Homo sapiens: one gene and its partner. The protein of the gene in region 1 purifies or fractionates together with the protein of each later gene. This does not show direct contact. Each region holds a gene or a part of one and is shown on either strand. Other genes may lie near its edges.

Region 1 (5,014 bases):
CTCCCCTGGTTAAACGGGCTTTCCCGCACCATTTCTACAAGCATTAAAACAGGCAGGGAAGGAGAAGGCTATTTATTTTAACCCTCATTCTTGCCTCCCCACCATGCCCCATAAGATAGTATTCACTAGCATGGAAACAAACAAGAAAAAAAAAAAAAGAAATATATTTAAATTGGCCAGGTGTGGTGGCTCATGCCCATAATCCTAGCACTTTAGGAGGCCAAGGCGGGCAGATCACTTGAGTCCAGGAGTTTGAGACCAGCCTGGGCAACATGGCAAAACCCTGTCTCTACTAAAAATACAAAAAATTACCAAGCATGATGGTACATGTCTGTAATTCCAGCTACTCAGGTGACTGAGGCAGGAGAATAGCTTGAGCCCAGGAGGTCGAGGCTGCAGTGAGCCCTGACCGTGCTACTGCACTCCAGTCTGGGTGACAGAGTGAGACCCCATCTCTAAATAAATCCTAAACATACTCAACTTCTCCTTTCCTGATTACAAAATATCAAATGATATGTTCTCCTGATCTCTAAAGGGAAAACCTTTCCCTCTAGCAAAGGTCTCAAAAGATCTCTAAAAATGGTGATTAACTTTAAAGCCAGTGATATAATTATTAGAACTGACCAGGGGAAGGGGCTGAAGAAGAAAGAGAAAAGCTGATGGCAAATTTGCTTGATTTACTAAATTCTGTTTAATATAAGGAGCCTAAATCGATTGGCCTAAAAATCAACTTTCATTCCTTGAACATAAATCAACTAACATTAGGACAAGTGGGTCGCAAGCTTCAGGGGCGGCAAAGGGAAGTCAGAAAACATGGTGAGAAAATTATTCTGCAGTGATAGCTTTTCTGACAAATATAACAGTTTGTCAAAAAGCATATAATAGGGCGAAATCTGCACAAAACCTCACAGAGAAAAAAATTGAAATTTTTGGGTCAAGTTAAATTACCAGTTCCAGTCCAGCGAGCACTTCATTCAGTCCTGGTGGCTGACCGATCCAACGGATTACCCCATAGAAAGGAGGGTTCTCCTTAACTTCAGCCAATGAGCCCACTTCTAGACCATGTGAGTTCCCAGGAGGCATGGCCAAGGGTGGACTCTCTTGGACGGGTGCAGTGTTTAGCTCTTCCATTACAGACTGGGCTGACAGAGAAAGTGGACTGTGGCCAATACTTCCATTGGTATTGGGCATCTTGGTGAGACTGAATGGTAAAGAGTGGAATCTGTTCTCGGTGGTCAGTGAGTTCACAGGAGGAGGCTGGAGTGGTGGTGAAGAACGGTCAAAGTCTGTAGATATCTCTGTAAGAGATTTTGCAGGGTCTTCTGCAACTAAAAAATTATTCCTAATTACAGAAATGTATTCAAGGATATTGACTCTGTCTTACATTTCTAAAAATTTATATACAGATCTAGTCCAACTGCCCACCTGACCTCCCTGCTATTAATAGTACTCTCATAGGCATCACAAAGTTATTATCTCCAACAGTGTTCTCGCTCCTCTCTCCACCTCCATATTTATGCACCTCAGTCAATGGCACCCAACTGTTCAAACCAAAAAAATCTATTATCAGCGGGTATCGTATACGTGATAGTCTTTGTCCAAAATACAATTAATTGAGAAGGCAGTACAAAAAGATACCGAAAACCTTAAGAAACGCTTCTATATATCTAATGGATCAAAAAAGAAATAATACGTTTTAACAATAAAGAAAAAAGAGAGAAAAAGTAACAAAGAAAGAAAGAATCCTTGTGAAACATGGCTAAATTAATACTTATAAGGGAATTTTATAGACTTCATTGCTTATTTCAGAAAAAAACAAAAGCTAAATATGAACTCAGCATACAACTTGGGAAGTTAAAAGAACAGAATAACCCTCAAAAAAGTAGAGAAGAATAAACTAAAGAACAGAAACAACAGAAGAGAGAAAACAAACATACAATAAGAAGTTCAAAGCCAGAATAAACACAAACACAGAATGTAATTTAAGAGAAACCAAACACATGATAAAGAGAGCCACAGCCAAAAGCTATTTTCTTAAAATGACTAATACAGCTGACAGGCAGGTATTGCAGATCAATGACAAAAGAATGAACTTCTTACTAAATGCTGTTGAGATAATTGGTTATCCATATTTTTAAAAAAAAATTAAACAGGAATCCTACTCATACTTTACATGAAAATCAGCTCCAGGTGCCTTAAAAACAAATGTGGCAGGCAAAACTCTAAAGGCTGGGAGACCACAGAGTCAGGCCTGTTTGCCTTTCCATTCTCATCTCATGAATGTCATGCCTCTGTCTGTGTTCTAGTCCCTGGCAAACACTAGCTTCCATTCTTCCAGGAGGACTTTCCCTATGCTATTTCTTCTCCCGAGGAAGTTCTAGCCCCTTTCACTTTGTCATCTGTCACTCCTCTGGTAAACCTAAGCATGTGTCACTGCCCCAAAGAAACACCCCTAAGACCCTGAGAAAAATCATCTTTGGTGTATTCTCACAGCATCATGCACCTTCACTGCACACACCACCAAGGCAACTCTACTGTGTCTGTGGTTGTTTGACTAATTTCTATCTCAACAACTTAACAACTGCAAACTCACAAAGGGCATGAACCATGTCTATTTTTTCTCACCATTTTCATCTTGATGCCTAAAAGAATGCCTGGCAATCATAAGCACTCAATAAATATTTGTTGAACAAATGAACAAAGAAGAGAATAAACTAGGTGAAAATGATGTCCCAGGACCAAGGGAAGATAAAATTTTTTAAAAGGGAGTGCTTTAAAGAGGTCAGGAAGGAACCAGACAGAAATCTTCCACCCTAAATAGATCAGCAGTTAAAGGAAAAGAACAAATTACTAATACATTTCTTAAACATTTTAATAATCTTAACAGCAGTACGGTTCAAACTGTGTACAATATTTTAGTTCAGCAATATTACAAAGAGCGGTCTACTTATTCTGTTTCCAAAAACTACAAATATTGATATAAAAAACCATTTTTCTCTGATGAGTTAGAAAGAAAGGATCATTATAAAGAACACTAAAATTACTGATTACCTTCATCAATGTACCATGTATTTTTTGATTTGGATTGTGGTTGTGAGTCAACAGAAGACCCATTTAAGGTATAAAATAATTCAGATCTGTTTCTATTTCCAGGGTCTGAGGTAGATCCTATAGGAACAAGAAAAGTTTCATTTAAAAATAAAGTCAATATAGCATCAAAGTTTTTTTTTAGTAAGAGAAATTATTATGAATATGATGTTAATAACTGTTTACATAACCAATAAATGTATATAAACACAATATGTTTTTTAACTGTCTTCAGCTTTTAAAAATTTGGTAACCATTTTGACAATATTAAAAATATTTTTCAGCCCAAAAGTCAAGATAGGAGGGAAACAGGAGTAAGTTAAAAGAAAAGCCCACTCATTTTTAAAAAAAATGAACTGCTTTAAGAAATTGTTCCATGTACCACAGCTTATTTCTAAATGTCAAAATCACCATTCTCCAGCTTCATTTCATAGACCCATTGGTTCACAAATTTAACCTATTATTTTAAAAGAAGGTAATCCTCAAATTCTATATATAAATCAATACACAAATTACATTTAAAAATAGTTAAGTTTTAAACATTTTGGAATTTTTGGTCATCAAATTCCTTGTGTCTTTGAAAAAATCAAGCACTATTATTTCTTACAGATTGGATTTATTATACGTGAGAGGGCGAGTGTAGCTATGCCACAGCCATTTCATGACATTACCCTGCCTCAGTATTAATTCAAGGACATACCACACACAGTGGAGGGCAGTGGGCTCTCCAGAACCCACAAAAAAGCTGATTTCCCTTTTCAAATTAAAGCAGGTAGCTGTACATTTTATAACTTTAAGATCTACTACAATACAATTAACATGCCATAGCTTAAGAAAATCTTTAGTCTGTTTCTATTTAAGTGAGAGTAGCAAGTTTGAGCTATCCTATATAGATCTATAGGTTAACATAAAAAAGACTGTTACCTATATATCCTGCAATTAATCCTAAGTCTCCCAGGCCCCAATGTCACATAAAATAATTCTTAAAGTACAATTTCCTTTTAAATGAGCCAAAATTGTAATAATTGAGGAAAAAATATTCTTTTCCTAACTCGCATCTGAGTTAACAAAAATTCTCAGAGCCTTTTTAATGAGCTCTTTGGCTTGTATAACTACTATTCTATAAATCTATGAAGTATGTGGAAGCTAACAAAAAAAAGAGCTGTAAGCTCCACACATATTGTGAGGAAGCTTCTGGGAAAGAGAAGAAATTTTTGCTTAGCAGTTTGGGATTTAATTTGTACCAAATCTAGTTAGCAAAATCCATTTAATTAACCTCTAGTATACTTTATCCTATATAACATTATCCATATAGGATTATTTTACACAGTTGCAATCCTAAACTATACATACAAATATTCCAAGTAAGGAGTTCCAAAAACCATTTGATTATAGACCAGCAAAACACACAAGACCCTATGGGGAACTCTTCCTGAGGTAAAAAAGGCTGGGAACACTTGGCTTAAGCAACAGTATTTATATACAAACTTTAGTTTCACTACTAAAAATGTTTGAAAGAAAAAAAGTCTACATACATGTTCAGAAGTAATAGCTTATAATCTTTTTTAATGCTATGGCAAGTTAGGCATTATGCAAATTACTAAAGGTTATATGCTATTAATCCATACCTGTAGCCTTTGGTTTATTATGACTGGATGAACCTTTGTCCCCAACACCTCTTGACATAAAGGCAAGTTTGGGAGGCCTCCTTTCCTGCGTCACACTCTCTGAAACAGTAAGCATGTTTTTTAAAGATAAAGGCAAATTCTTATAGAAGAGAAACAAGGAATGACAGTAACAAAATAAAAAAACCCTCTTTCCACAAAAAGGCAGAATTTTTAGTTTTACAAATGCCTTTTAAAGGCCATCAAAAGTATTGAAAAAGATAATACTATGGGGGAAAAAACCAATGCTGTATTTCAAAATG
Region 2 (4,224 bases), on another chromosome or scaffold:
CTACTAAAAATTAGCCATGCCTGGTAGCACATGCCTGTAATCCCAGCTACTTGGGAGGCTGAGGCAGGAGAATTGCTTGAACCTGGGAGGCAAAGGTTGCAATGAGGCGAGATTGCGCCATTGCACTCCAGCCTGGGCAACAAGAGAGAAACGCAGTCTCAAAAAAAAAAAAAAAAAAAAAAAAAAAAGTTAGTTTGCTGTGGTCAAGTTAAATCATTAACATCAGTGTATCTGAGTTAAAGGAAATTGGCCTTTCTTTGCCATATGCAAATTTATTCTACCTTTGGGGATTCATGCAAGGCAGATTGTTAGAAACTTGGGTGGGGAGGGTGCAGGGGCAGATTTACAGATCTATTTTGTCTTTAAAAAAAAAAAAAAAAAAAAAAAAGAGAGACAGGGGGTCTCACTGTATTGTCCAGATTGGATTCTAACTCCTGAGCTCAAACAATCCTCCTGCCTCAGCCTCTGGAATAGCTGGGACTACAGGCATATGCCACCACACAGGGCTTATTTTCTTGATTTTTAAAAATACACTTCTTAATAAATCTGCATTTCACTTTCTTCATTATGTTTCTCTAGCATTTGTATATTTCTCAACTAAAACTCCTTAGATTCCTCATAATTACTTGTCTTAAACACCCAAACTCCTGGCCAGGTGCAGTGGCTGCCGCCTGTTAGCCCAGCATTTTGGGAGGCCAAGGCAGGTGGATTGCTTCAGCCGGCTTCAGACCAGCCTGGGCTAACACAGCAAGACCCTGTCTCTACTAAATATACAAAAAATTAGCCAGGTGTGGTGGCACACACCTGTAGATCCAGCAAATTGAGACTGCTGTGAGTTGTGATCAGGCCACTGCACTACAGACTGGGCAATGGGAGTGAGACCCTATCTCCAAAACAACCACCACCACCACCACCACCACCAAATCCCTTACCACAGCAGGGTCTAAGCAATCTGGTATCTACTGACCTCATCTCCTACCTCCTCCTGGCTCTTGCTACATTCCAGGCACAAAAGCCTTCTGTTCTACAAACTGGCCACAAGAGTTCTCCCTGACCATAATAATGCTCATCCTCTAATTTGATAATGGACACCATTCAGCACTCAGCCCACTGTCAACTCTTCAAAAAGGCCTTCTACGATTACCATCTACATCATCCTTGTTTTACTGTGTTAGCAATTACCCTCATTTGAAATAAACTTCTTTGTCGTCTCATACACACACTAGACTGCAAGCTCCTGAGGGCAGGGACTTTCGTCTGTATGCTCAGGACCTTCAGCATTACCTGGCACACAGTACATATTTAGTAAGCATTTGTTGTATGAACTAAAGGATAAGTCACAACATGTCAGTCACCCAGCAAAACATGAGTTTCCAGTCAAGACTGGAGACTATCCCTTCAGATCAATCATTAGCAGCCCCAACATAATGTGGGAACTCAGTTGCATGAATGTCAGATGAACAAATGACCAACTTAACTGCCACAATTAAATTTGTTTATTCAAAAGTACTTCAAGAAAGTGAATTTTTAGATTTGTTCTGGCCTGGCAGAATGGCTCATGCCTGTAATCCCAGCGCTTTGGAAGGCCGAGGCGGAAGGATCACTTGAGGCTAGGATTTCAAGACCAGCGTGGGCAACATAGTGAGACCCTGTCTCTACAATAAATAAAAATTAGCCAGGCATGGTGGCGAGCACTTGTAGTCTCAGCTGCTCTGGAGGCTGAGGCAGAAGGACTGGTTAAGCTCAGAATTTTAAGGCTGCAGTGAGCTATGATCATGCCATTGCATTCCAATCTGGGCAACAGAGTAAGACTCTGTCTCTGAAAAAAGATAAAATTTATCCTGTATTACCTGTTCAAACATGCCAGTGATTTTACTTTTGTTTCAGGGTTCTGTACTTACCATTCCTTCTGCCTGCAGAGCTCTGCACACGGAAAGCTACAAGGTTTGCACTGCCCACTTCATTCTCATTCAGGACTCTTGTTTTTTTTGGAGACAGGGGTCTTTGCTCTGTCACCCAGGCTGGAGTGCAGTGGCGTGATCTCAGCTCACCGCAGTCCCCGCCTCCCAGGTTCAAGCAATTCTCCTGCCTCAACCTCCCAAGTAGCTGGGACTACAGGTGCGTGCCACCACGCCCGGCTGAGTTTTATATACAGTAAAGATGCGGTTTCACCGTGTTGGCCAGGCTAATCTCAAACTCTTGACCTCAGGTGATCTGCCGCCTCAGCCTCCCAAAGTGCTGGGATTACAGGCATGAGCCACCGTGCCCGGCCTGGAAGGACTCTTTTCAAATGTCATCTTTTTTTCAGAGATGCCTTGCTGCACCATCCTATCTAAAAGAGCATTCACCTCAGTTACTCTCCATGCCCTTACTCTACTATTTTCCAAGTACATTTTATCAGGCATATTAATTTCTTTTGTCATTTACTGTGCTTCTCTCTTCACTAGATTGTAAACTCCACTGATAGTAGGGACTTTGTGCTTTGTTCACTGCTCTCTCCCTAGAGCCTTACAATAGTGATGAGCACCCGTTATATATTTGTTGTACTATTTTAAAAAGCTAGATACCTTTGATGTTTCCATCAAAAATATTATTCTTCATCTTTATTTTGGTTGGTTGACTGTGTCAAACAGAAAGAGGTGGACACAACCTTCTAGATTCTAAAACCACAACAGGCTGAGCAAGGTGGCTCACTTCTGTAATCCCAGCACTTTGGGAGGTGGAGATGGGACGATCACTTGACCCCAAGGACCGTTCAAGACCAGACTTGGCAACAATAGTGAGATCCTGTCTCTACAAAAAATTTTAAAAATTAGCTGGGCTCAGGCCGGGCGCGGTGGCTTACGTCTGTAATCCCAGCACTTTGGGAGGCCGAAGCAGGCGGATCATCTGAGGTCAGGAGTTCGAGACCAGCCTGACCAATGTGATGAAACCCCGTCTCTACTAAAAATACAAAAAAAAAAAAATTAGCCGGGCGTGGTGGCATGCGCCTGTAATCCCAGCTACTCAGGAGGCTGAGACAGGAGAATTGCTTGAACCCGGGAGGCAGAGGTTTCAATGAGCCAAGACTGCACCATTGCACTCTAGCTCTAGCCTGGGCAACAAAAGTGAAACTCCCATCTCAAAAAAAAAAAAAAAAAAAAAAAAAAATTAGCTGGGCTTGGTGATACCCTCCTGTGGTCCTAGCTACTAGGGAAGTTGAGGCAGGAGGATTGCTTGAGCCCGGGAGGTCTAGGCTGCAATAAGCTGAGGTCTTGCCACTGCAGTCCAGTATGGGTGACTGAGTGAAACCCTGTCTCCAAAAATAAAATAAAATAAAATAAAATAAAATAAAAATAAATAAATAAAACCACATAATAGAATGAAACCTAAAATGATTAAGTTGAGATGCTAGGGTAGGACTATTTTTAAGTTTAAAAAAAAGTGAGGGGTTATATAAATATGCATGTTATAATCCCTCAAAGTTAAAATACTACATAGATCCCAGAATCTTAATACTCTTTTTTGAGACAGGGTCTGGGTCTGTTACCTAGGCTGGAGAAATGCAGTGGTGTAATTCTGGCCCACTGAAACCTCTGCCTCCTGGGCTCAAGCCATCCTCCTACTTCAACCTCCCAAGTAGCTGGGACTACAGGCACACACCACCACACCTGGCTAATTTTTGTGTTGTTTCTGTAGACATGGTTCCAGTGTTGCCCAGGCTGGTCTGGAACTCCTGAGCTCAAGTGATCCGCCCACCTTGGCCTTCCAAAGTTTATTCTTTGGGAATATTCTTTAAGGAACTATTTGTCAACAAATCCTTTTTATATCGCCTTGCAGATATAGTCTATAAAACCGAATTCTAAGCTTATCCTTAATTTGAGAAAATAAGAGAAATCAGGGACTTTTAGAGAACATTTTACAGGTATTCATAATTATCAACAAGATCAAGCTCTAATTATCTTATGCAACCACAAGTAAAGGTACTTTGACACTCTGAAATATTAGCAATATATAAATGCAAAAAGTGTTACTGATCTAAAAATGACTCAAACTAGAAACAAAACATTCATTTTGGCCAAGTAGGGTGGCTCATGCCTGTAATCCCAGCTCTTTGGGGGGCCAAGGTAAGCAGATTGGTTGAGTCCAGGAGTTTGAGACCAACCTGGGCAACATGGTGCCATCTCTACAAAAAAAAAATAAAAATTAGTTGAGTGTGGTGGTGCACGCCTGTAGTCCTAGCTA

What was found. The genes of interacting proteins can lie anywhere in the genome.
Region 2: the proteins of CYLD (region 1) and CSE1L purify together in Homo sapiens (affinity purification with mass spectrometry, with the first as the bait; 2 studies listed by BioGRID). This does not show direct contact.

The regions. Positions count from the first base shown.
Region 1 is NC_000016.10:50,775,979-50,780,992, reverse strand, and holds part of CYLD (ubiquitin carboxyl-terminal hydrolase CYLD), read right to left. Parts: intron 4,815-5,014; coding exon 4,716-4,814; intron 3,169-4,715; coding exon 3,052-3,168; intron 1,329-3,051; coding exon 949-1,328; intron 1-948. UniProt on the Homo sapiens protein: Deubiquitinase that specifically cleaves 'Lys-63'- and linear 'Met-1'-linked polyubiquitin chains and is involved in NF-kappa-B activation and TNF-alpha-induced necroptosis.
Region 2 is NC_000020.11:49,049,312-49,053,535, reverse strand, and holds part of CSE1L (exportin-2), read right to left. Parts: intron 1-4,224. UniProt on the Homo sapiens protein: Export receptor for importin-alpha. Mediates importin-alpha re-export from the nucleus to the cytoplasm after import substrates (cargos) have been released into the nucleoplasm.